2 separate regions of the Homo sapiens genome follow, and region 1 is linked to region 2. Evidence: fine-mapped expression QTL. A gene starts in region 2. The other region holds a variant in brackets. All regions are shown on one strand. Distances are between the middles of the regions. Region 1 has its middle 12 kb from the start of WTAP. Region 2 holds the start of ACAT2 (acetyl-CoA acetyltransferase 2).

Region 1 (5,374 bases), 47 kb before region 2:
GATCACCATAACCACCTCCATAACCACCACTCACACTGCTCAGACCTCCATAACCACCTCCATAACCACCACTCAGCTGCTCTGACCTCCATAACCACCTCCATAACCACCACTCACACTGCTCTGATCACCATAACCACCTCCATAACCACCACTCACACTACTCTGATCACCCTAACCGCCTCCACAACGACCACTCAGCTGCTCTGACCTCCATAACCACCTCCATAACCACCACTCACAATGCTCTGATCACCCTAACCACCTCCATAACCACGACTCAGCTGCTCTGACCTCCATAACCACCTCCATAACCACCACTCACACTACTCAGACCACCATAACCACCTCCACAACCACCACTCAGCTGCATAACTAGACTGGTTGGGTAAGCCCATCTCTCCCATCATTTGCCTACCATAAGCACCACCACTTGCCCCTGCTGTAGATTCAAGAAAAGTTCTACATAGGTGTGTTCATAAACCCCCCTACTTGTTCCTATAGCATTTAAAAAGGTCTCCCTGTACCTGTGCTGCATATTAGCTTTGTCTTTTGCCATAGCTGCCACTGCATCTTCGTGAGCAGCAAACTCAACATCTGCCCTACCAGTAAACTCTGTCATCGTGTCCAATTTCAATATGTACTCTCATGAGGTTAAGAGGTGAATAGAAATTATAACATTCTTAGTGGCTCTGTAAGGTAAACCCCTCGTGTGTACACAGTGCCCTGTGGTGCTCTGGAAACTGGACCCACTATCTCCGTATCTATGATCAGACATTCCTGAAAAACAGTAATTGCGGTCTTTTCCAAATCTATCAGACCTAAAGCCATATCCATCATTACAGCCACGATAGTCATCATAGCCTCTATACCCTCCACCATAGGGACCCTGCCTCATCTTTTCAAACCCAGCTCCTCTGCCAATGCTATTACACCTCAGCCAGCCCCTGGCCTATCACTGGGACCTGGCCACTGCACAGCCATGAGCTTCTGAGAGGGATCATAGTAGGTATGAACTTCAGCTTGGCTATTCTAGAAGATTTCAATGTACCTGTGCCCTATTCTTTCCCTGTGTTTCTTCAATGCCGTCTCAGCTATCTCCTGCGAAGCCAACTGCACAAAGGCTTCCCCTGTGCTTCTGCCCTGAAAGTCCACTCACAGTGTTATCCCATTTGGCACAATTTCCAACCCTGAAAAGAAATGAACAATCTCTTCCTTGGACAGCCAAATGGAAGTCCTCTAAGCCAGACGAAGCCATCGTTGGCAGTATCAGGACTATTCAGACCTGTGTGCTTCGATACCCAATCCATTTCAACACTATTAGACTTGAATACTTCAACGTATCTGTGTCCCATGGTTTCTCTGTCTTTAAAGCCAATTTCGCTTCATCTGCAGATTCAAGTTCAACAAATGCTTCACCACTTGGTCTGCCTTCTCCGGTGTAGATGAAACAAATACCTGATGTGCCATTTTGTATTTTGCAATCAGAGAAGTGCATCACTTCATCAGCTGAGCAGGACCAGGATAGGCCCTGGACCTTCACCACGAACCCCTCCCTGCCTTCCGTGCTCAGCATCGTGGCGACTGTTGAGCTCTTGGTGGCAAGTTTGGCGGAATGCAATTTTGGTGTAGTGGGCAATTATCCTCCTTCTGCCTTCAAATGGGCTATAGCAAGATGACAAGCAGAACTACTTCTGCTCACATAAGCAAGTGATCACATGAGCACACCGGCTTTACCTCTAATCTCTGCTGCCATCTGACTTCTCTGTGCCTCTGCTGTCCCATCTGTCACATAAGACTAATACAGGCCCTCACCTCCCTAGACGTCGGGTTGTGAGGACCAAAGAAACATCATCTCTGCCTATACCTTTTCCTCTATTCTTTTTTCCCTCCAGAAACCCAATGACCTTGGACTTCCCTGAGTCCCACACTGGCTGACATATTACATACGGATTCTTCCCTCCAAGGGAAGATAAGCCTAGCTTCCATCGGGAACAGACCCGCACATTCCATCAGTCCCTTCTCCTGACTGTACACTCCCTACTTCACTCCCCAGGCAGGGCCTGGGTAGTGAACTTTTAAGAACCAACACTGATTTGACTTCCACCAGCAGGCTCAGCAGCACAGCCTCTAGATGTTTTGCTCGTTTCATCGCCAGGCGGTACTCTTTCCCACGGTACTATAAAGCAATTCCTGTTTTTCACTTTGTTGAAAAGGTGTGCCAAATGACTGCAATTCTGTGTGCCCAGATTATGATAAGCCTACCCTGGTGTCCTGCCTAACTAATCACATCACAGCCCACTGGCATTTTCATCAGAAGCCTTTGCTTGAGTGGATGGGGGTAGGCTGCAGATTCTTCTCTGTTGTCTGGCTGGAGTAGAGCAGTTACTGTCTAAAGGTTTTCTGTCTTGGTAGACTGCCTCCTTTCTTGGACCTTTAGTTATACATAAGAGGCTTTTGCTGGTGGCTGTTTTTGTCTGTGCTTGTTGATGTGTACAGATTGCTGGCTTCTGGGATATATGAGGCAAAAATGAAACACAGGGAGTCATTCCTGTGTCAGTCCTTGGGTCCTGAAGTCCATAGCCAGTTTGCCTTTCAGTCTTCTTCTGCTTGTTTTACATATAATATTCAGGATTTTTAGCCATACTTGGTGAGAGGAACATGGAAAAGTATGTCTAGTCCATTTTCCCAGGAGTGGAAATTTCCCAGACTTGTGTTTAGAAAGGGCTTGTTGTGTAGGAGAGAGTTTGGATGGGAAGCAAAGATGGGTGGCAGAGGACCAATTGGGGGGCCACTGTTAGTCGACAAGAAAAGCTGAAGACCTGGATTGGCCAGTGGCACTGGGACCCAAATGAGTGGGATAGAGAAAACTATTTACAGGTTAAGAAAAACAGGGAAGAGCAACAAAAACATGTCTAACAGGAAGTCAGTGTGGTCAACAGTAGAACCATTGCTTAAGGCCCAGTGCTCTCCTCTGGCAGAAGAATGGATTTACAGTTTGTCAACAGTCACATAGTTTTTGAATGGACTGTCTCCTGTCCTAGTGGGTCTTTAATTTGTGGGGAA[C/CA]AAAAAACCGTCCTTTTAAAAACTGAAGAGATTTGACTGAAGGTTTGACCAAACAGGATCTTACCGTTGCATCCATAAGGTTAAACACTATTAGCAAGCAACAGAGGCAAACAGAATAGTATTTTGAAAAGTTCTGAATATAGGCCAGGCATGGTGGCTCACGCCTGTAATCTTAACACTTTGGGAGGTCAAGGTGGGAGAATCACTTGAGCCCAGGAGTTTGAGACCAGCCTGGCCAACATGGTGAGACTCCGTCTCCATAAAAAATGCAAAAATTAGCTGGGTATGGTAGTTCACACCTGTAGTCCCAGCTACCTGGGGGGCTGAGGTGGGAGTATCGCTTGAGCCCAGGAGGTGCAGGCTGCAGTGAACTGAGATGACACCACTGGTCTCCAGCCTGGGCAACAGAGCTAGACCCTGTCTCAAGGAAAAAAAAAAAAAAAAAGTTCTGAAAATAAAATCCTTCAAGACCCTTATATTTTTATTGTAGTTAGCTTTTTGTCTTATAAAAGTTTGGTTTTCTGGAAATGAATAATGACTTTTAAATTTTTGCTTTATTGTGAAACAAGGGCTATGGACATCATAATGTAAAAACAACAACAATAAAGCAAAGTGTCACAGAAAAACCTAGTTTTGCTGGCACCTCTCCATTTTATTTCACTTGCTGATCATGTAAATGCCCTTCCTCTCTAAGTTAGAATGTGTTTGGCTATGGGTAACAGGAATCCTGATGAACAGTGGTTTTAAATATAAGGACATATCTGTTTTACCTAATAAAAAGTACAAGAACTGGCAGTCCCTTGGTGAGTCTGGAAGATTAACAAGGTCATCCCGGACCCAGGGACTTTCCATTCTTGACTCTGAATTCCCAGCAGCCTGCTTTCATTTTCCAACTTGTTGCCTCATCGTCACAAGATGTTTCCTATAGGTGCAAGCAGCACAGCCTCTCACAGCCTAGTAAGAGACAACAAGGAAGGGAGGGGGAAAACATTTCACCTCATGTGCCTCTCCCCGGAAGGAAAATTTTTCTCAGAAGCCCCGAGAGATTTCCTCTGATCCCAGCCAGAACTGCTCAACTGGCCAACTCTGCCTGCAAGAAGACTGAGCACCATCACTATGTGGTAAAGACCATGACAGCCATGCTTGCCTTAGACCAGCAGTTCTCATCAAGGGCATGACGGGAGGGGGCAGTATTGAAAATATAGAAAGGGACACTTTCAGCTGTCACATATACAGAGAGGTGCTATTGGCATCTAGTGGGTTGGTGTGGGGATGCTAAATGTCCTAAAATGCACAAGATACTTTTCACACACACACAAATTGTCTTGTCCAAAATTCCAGTAGCACACTTGTTGAGAAACACTGGCTTACACCAGCCATAATTCATCTCCTGGCCTGAAGATACTATGACTCAAACACAATTTAGAAGTTCCTAGATTGTGCAAGAGGAGGAACATGGCTCCCAGTAGTGTGTGCCACAATACCCCAGCAGATGTTGGAAGGAGTACAGCAATGCCTAGTCATTCTGGCATGCTAAATCCTTTTCAGAAAGCTGCTATTATTTGTACTGAATGGGCAACTAGGAAAGAATTACAGGGATCAGGACAGGGAAATTACATGCAAAAGGTGCCTTTATTTTTCCTAATGAAGGGATTTTTTTCCAGTAGCTGGACAAGCCTGTTTCCGAGAATAATTGACTCTGAGCTACCCATACCTCTGTTACCTCTGTTGACCAACAGATGCTCCTTACTCCCACCAAGGAGTTCAGAATGTTTAAAACCTAACTCTATCTTTATTTTTTTACTATAATTATTTTAGAATTAGAGACAGGGTCTCGCTGTGTTGCCCAGGAGGGTCTTGAACTCCTGGGTTCAAGGACTTCTCCCACCTCAGTATCCCAAAGTTCTAGGCTTATAGGCATGAGCCACTGTGCCTAACCATAAAATTATTATTTTTATTTGACACATAATAACTGTACATATTCTGGAGTACACTGTGATATTTCCATACATGTATACAATGTGTAGTGATCAAATCAGGGTAATTGGCACATCTATCAATTCAAATATCTATTATTTCTTTGTGCTGAAAATATTCAAAATCTGCTCTTCTATTTGAAAATATACAATAAATTGTTTGTTATTATAGTTACCCAATGGTGCTGTAGAACACTAGCACTTATTCCTCCCATCTAGCTGTACTGTTGTATCTGTTAATAACCTCTGGCTGTCCCCTCCCTACCCCTACCCTTTCCAGTCTCTAGTAACCGCTATTCTACTCTCTACTTCCATGAGATCAACTTTTTTAG
Region 2 (5,374 bases):
GCAATCTCGGCCCACCACAACCTCCGCCTCCCAGGTTCAAGCAATTCTCCTGCCTCAGCCTCCCTAGTAGCTGGGATTTACAGGCATGTGGCACCACGCCCAGCTAATTTTGTATTTTAGTAGAGACAGAGTTTCTGCATGTTGGTCAGGCAGGTCTTGAACTCCCGACCTCAGGTGATCTGCCCGCCTCGGCCTCCCAAAGTGCTGGGATTACAGGCATGAGCCACCGCGGCCGGCCAAGACATAATTTTAAAAATTATCTTCCAGCTGGCCGGGCGCGGTGGCTCACGCCTGTAATCCCAGCACTTTGGGAGGCCGAGGTGGGCGGATCACAAGGTCAGGAGTTCGAGATCAGCCTGACTAACATGGTGAAACCCCGTCTTTACTAAAAATATAAAAATTAGCTGGGCATGATGGCACGGGCCTGTAATCCCAGCTACTCAGGACTCTGAGGCAGAAGAATCGCTTGAACCCGGGAGGTGGAGGTTGTGGTGAGCCGAGATAGCGCCACTGCACTCCAGCCTGGGTGACAGAGCGAGCTCCGTCTCAAAAAAAAAAAAAAAATTCCTCTTCTTTCCTTCATTCATTATTCTTAGTCTCTGTCTGTCTCATATGAGTAGATAATCATATGAGTAGCTATAATGAGGACTCCTCAGGGGACAGATTCTGTTTGGCCACTCAGCAGAAGCATGCAATTACCTTCTCAAGATTGGCTCCTAAACTTACTCTAGATAGAGCCTTCAGGCAGGAAACTCTATATCCCTTGGCTCCAGAAGAATATATTCATACTCATTCAAATGTGCTAGGCACTGGCCATAAAGAATATTGGTGTTCATTCATAACTGCCTATAATGTGCTAGGAGCTGTGCATAAAGCAGTGTAACAGGATCATCTTGGAAAGCTTATGTAGTCAGTAGAGGAGACAGATAAACTAGGAATTACATGGTAAGTTGAAAGAGGAAGTTAGGGGTAAGATGCTGCACCAAATGCAGGAGATTGGAAGGTTTTTCTGGAAGAAGTGATGTTTAGGGGGAGTTTCAGAGGTAAATTTCTGGTTTGGTTAACAGAAGATAGTTTCACTGCTCACTGAGATTACAGAAGAAACAGGCTGGAAGAGTTTGGTTTCAATATGTCAAATTTGATGTGCTTATAGGAAATTTTATTTATTTGAGACAGTTTCTCTCTGTCGCTCAGGCTGGAGTGCAGTGGTGTGATCTCGGCTCACTGAAACCTCTGCCTCCTAGGTTCAAGCGATTTTCCCATGTCAGCCTCCCCAGTAGCTGGGATTACAGGCGCACGGCACCACGCCCGGCTAATTTTTCTATTTTATGGTAGAAACGGGATATCACCATGTTGGCCAGGCTGGTGTCAAACTGCTGACCTCAAATGATCCGCCCTCCTCGGCCTCCCAAAGTGCTGGGATTACAGGTGTGAGCCAAGGTGCCCGACCTGATGTGCTTGTAAGAATTTAAATGAAGAGGGTCAGTCAGCTTAGGAGACGAGGTTAGATGTAAGGATTTCAGACTTGTCAGTATACAGGTGGTGATTGATGCCGTAGGAATGACTGGTATTACCCAGGGAGCTGGTGCAAAGTAGGAGCCTTGGGGAACATGTTAAGGGGATGTGAGAGTAAGCCCACAAAGACTCAGAAGTGGCCAGGGAGTAAGGGGAAAATGGGATAGAATAGAGCAAAAGCCACGGGAGGCATTCCTTGAATTCCTTGGACTCAGATATGTTAGGGGACAGGAAACACATTGAAGACAACTGAAGAGACTTCAGTGTGCTGCTGAGTTCTTAGCAGAGTAGACAGCTGATTTCACCACTATTCCAGACCCTAAAGATTTCTCCTGAAATTGCACTGTTATGCAATTTTTTTCCTTCTCTATTGCCCCACCTCTGGGGCCTACACTCTTTACCTTCTCTGATTTATCTGACCCATCCGCATATCTCTGCAAAGTCTTAATGTAGGTTTCCAGGATTTAATGATTCTTTCAATCAACTTTAAAGTTCTTCAGGAAGATTCTCCAGGTCCGTCAACAGTTTTCCCCTTCATGACTTTGTGACAAAGCTTTCTTGTTCCACTATCCAGGTGTTCCCAACAAGTTGCTGTAACGGTGGCCCCTCATAAGCTTGCCTGGAAACCCTAGAAAGCTCAGAAAAATTATGAACTTTGCCCAGTAAGAGGCTGGGAAGTCAGAAAGGGTTTTAAACAAAACTGACCCCACTTGTTACATGCTCCTTTCACTGTCCAAACGTCAACCAAAGGAACTTTTGTGACGCTAAGACGCTCCCGGCGTCCTCACCCGTTCACAGCCAGAGTTGATCTTAGAAGGCAGGGGGCTCGCACCGAGACGCTCCTAGCAAGCCCCTCACGCGAGCGAATGACTGGCGCCAGGAGAAACGCATAGGACCTCCCGAAGCCGCCGAGAGCAAAAGGACCCATCAGAGCTGTGCTGAGACCCGCCGCGGGCCGGGCTCGCACTCGAGATTCTCGCCCGTGGGATTCCAGTCCTGAGCTGAACGAGAGATAAGTCTTTGTCACCCCCCAGTCTTTACTGTTTCGAGAAACCCTAAGATTTTTTAAAAAAAAGCCCAAGACGTCAAGTCGGGGAACTCCAACATTGGGGTGTCCAGAAACACTGGGGTTTCAGGCGCTCTGTAAATGCGTCCGAGGTCCGCGGTTCTGCCCGCAAGCCCAGACCCCGGCCTCACTTCCGCCCCGCGCCCCGCGCCCCGGCCTCACTTCCGCCCCGCGCCCCGCGCCCCGCGCCCCGCGCGCCTCCGCCCGCCCCTGCTCCGGCCTTGCGCCTGCGCACAGTGGGATGCGCGGGGAGGTGGTGCGCGGGGAGGTGGAGGGCGAGGGGCGGGGCTACCTCAGGTCCCGCCCGCGGCAGGCCTGTGGGCTGCGAGGAGGAGCTTTGCCTAGCTTGCAGGCAGCGCAGGGCAGACGGCGGCAGGAGAAGCAAGATGAATGCAGGCTCAGATCCTGTGGTCATCGTCTCGGCGGCGCGGACCATCATAGGTGAGTGGCCGGCGGGAGCCGCGCAGAGTCCGAGGCGCCTGCTGCTTCGGCAGGAGCGCCGAGGGCCGGACTTGTGTAGGAGAGGGGCGTATGTGGAGGAAGCCGGTCAGGCCAAGCCGCGAGGAGCCGCGGGATCCCTGGAACCCTGCGGCTCCCGCGTTCCCTGACCTGGTGCTACAGCCCCACCCTCTCCTCTCCCGATGTGCGCACTCCGTCCCTCGTGCTTGGATTGGCTCCCGGGGTAGAGCCATCGCGTGGCCTGCCTCTCCCATTGGTTGGCGTAGGGAGGTGTTCTCCTCCGGGGCCCCTGATTGGCCGGCTCCGGGAGGCGCCATCGGTAATGCCTGCGGCAGGGGCGGAACTGCTAGGTGGTCTGAGCCCGGCTTTGGGCTGGGGTCGGGCTGTCACACAATGGCTAGAAGTCGTGACTTCGTCTCCTTCGTGCCGCATGGTTTTCAACGCCCTTGACCCGCCGGTTCCTTTTGTTTGGGAAGCATGGGGTCGCATCCAGTCCTTCGGATTTGGGGAAATAGAAGGGCTACAGCGGCGTCCCTAGGCCGTTCTGGAGGTCGCCTGTCCAGCCCTCGGCTGCTGCGAGTTGTGGCACCCACCTTGACCTTTGCTCAGACCAGCAGGTGTAGGAACGTGTGGGAGGAGAGGGCACTGCCTCCTCGCGTGGCCTTGCCAAACAGGGTCATGAGGCTCCCCTGCTCGTAGGTGGTTCCCGTATTACCCGCAGGCTTGTGATGTCCACGCTCTCCGCCTTTCTATTGTAGGTTCCTTCAATGGTGCCTTAGCTGCTGTTCCTGTCCAGGACCTGGGCTCCACTGTCATCAAAGAAGTCTTGAAGAGGGCCACTGTGGCTCCGGAAGATGTGTCTGAGGTCATCTTTGGACATGTCTTGGCAGCAGGTAAGTCTCAGTGATTCCAGGAGAAGTCAGGCTTATTAGAAACAGCCCATAAACACACACACACACACACACTCTCACACACTCACACACTCTCTCACTCACTCAAGTTCTTGCCTCCTTGCTTTTGCTCAGAGTTCCCTCTGTTATGATTCCTCCTGTTGGCCCCCTTCTTCCAGCCCTGTCAGTAGCTTCTATCCAGCTTGAGACTCAGCTTCTTGGCCAGGCAGGGTGGCTCCCGCCTGTAATCCCAGCACTTTGGGAGGCGGAGGAGGAAGGATCACTTGAGTCCAGAAGTTTGAGACTAGCCTGGGCAACAAAGCAAGACCCCGTCTCTACAAAAAATAAAATAGCCAGGTATGATGGCCTGTGCCTCCCAGCTACTGGAGAGGCTGAGGTGGGAGGATCACTTGAGCCCAGGAGTTTGAGACTGCAGTGATTGTGTCACTGCACTCCGTCATGGGTGACAGAGTGAGACCCCTTCTCTAAACAAACAAAAAGACTTAGCTTCATTAATATGCTTTTTGTGAATGAACTTAGACCACTGACCTACACCACCTACACTGCCTTTTCTTTTCCTTTTTTTTTTTTTTTTTTTTTTTTTTTTGAGACGGAGTCTCTCTCTGTGGCCCAGGCTGGAGTGCAGTGGCGTGATCTCGGCTCACTGCAAGCTCCGTCTCCCGGTTTCACGCCATTCTCCTGCCTCAGCCTCCCGAGTAGCTGGGACTACAGGCGGCCCACTGCCTTTTCATTCTTACGAAGCAGGGCCGGCCGGGCCCGGTGGCTCACGCCTGTAATCCCAGCACTCTGGGAGGCCGAGGTGGGCGGATCATGAGGTCAGGAGATCAAGACCATCCTGGCTGACACGGTGAAACCCCGTTTCTACTAAAAATACAAAAAATTAGCCGGGTGTGGTGGCGGGCGCCTGTATTCCCAGCTACTTGGGAGGCTGAGACAGGAGAATGGCGTGAACCCGGGAGGCGGAGCTTGCAGTGAGCTGAGATTGTGCCACTGCACTCCATTCAGCCTGGGCAACAGAGTGAGACTCCTTTTAAAAAGAAGAAGAAGAAGCAGCAGCAGGGCCAGCCTGACGCATAGGAAAGTATGCCTGCTCCTCCTTACTACCTCAAAGTGTCACTCATTCAACAAAAATGTATTCAGTTCCTCCTATGTGCCCCATACTGTGCTTAGTGCTGGGAGTATGGTTCCAACAATACAGGTAAGTTCCCTGCCCTCTTAGGGCTCAGTTCTGAGCTTGGAAAATAGGTGCCACATCATGCCCCTTGCAAATGGGGCATATCACTCCCCAGAGGAATATAGCTGAGTCCTGAGAGTGCCCCCATCTTCTGATTCTTTGGGTTTGAACACTCGTAATTAATTAATTAATTATTATTATTATTATTTAAAGAGACAGGGTCTCACTCTGTTGTCCAGGCTGGAATGC

What was found. PIP is the estimated chance that this variant, and not a neighbour inherited with it, causes the effect.
Region 1: its variant is fine-mapped to the expression of ACAT2 in whole blood (TOPMed, PIP above 0.99).

Annotation. Positions count from the first base shown.
Region 1 is chr6:159,712,410-159,717,783 of GRCh38, forward strand. It overlaps a transcript of SOD2 not described here and the pseudogene HNRNPH1P1. Among named protein-coding and RNA genes, the nearest start is that of WTAP, 12 kb to the right of the region's middle. The variant C/CA (reference allele first, on the strand shown) is at 3,067.
Region 2 is chr6:159,759,121-159,764,494 of GRCh38, forward strand. It overlaps ACAT2 (acetyl-CoA acetyltransferase 2), which reads left to right and starts at 2,925. Exons shown (of 9, transcript NM_005891.3): 1 at 2,925-3,022; 2 at 3,799-3,933. The coding sequence starts at 2,968. It overlaps SOD2-OT1 (SOD2 overlapping transcript 1), which reads right to left and starts at 3,212. Exons shown (of 2, transcript NR_037166.1): 1 at 2,874-3,212; 2 at 1,138-2,516. It also overlaps a transcript of SOD2 not described here. RefSeq lists enhancers at 2,178-2,237, 4,306-4,806 and silencers at 2,668-2,727, 2,748-2,897.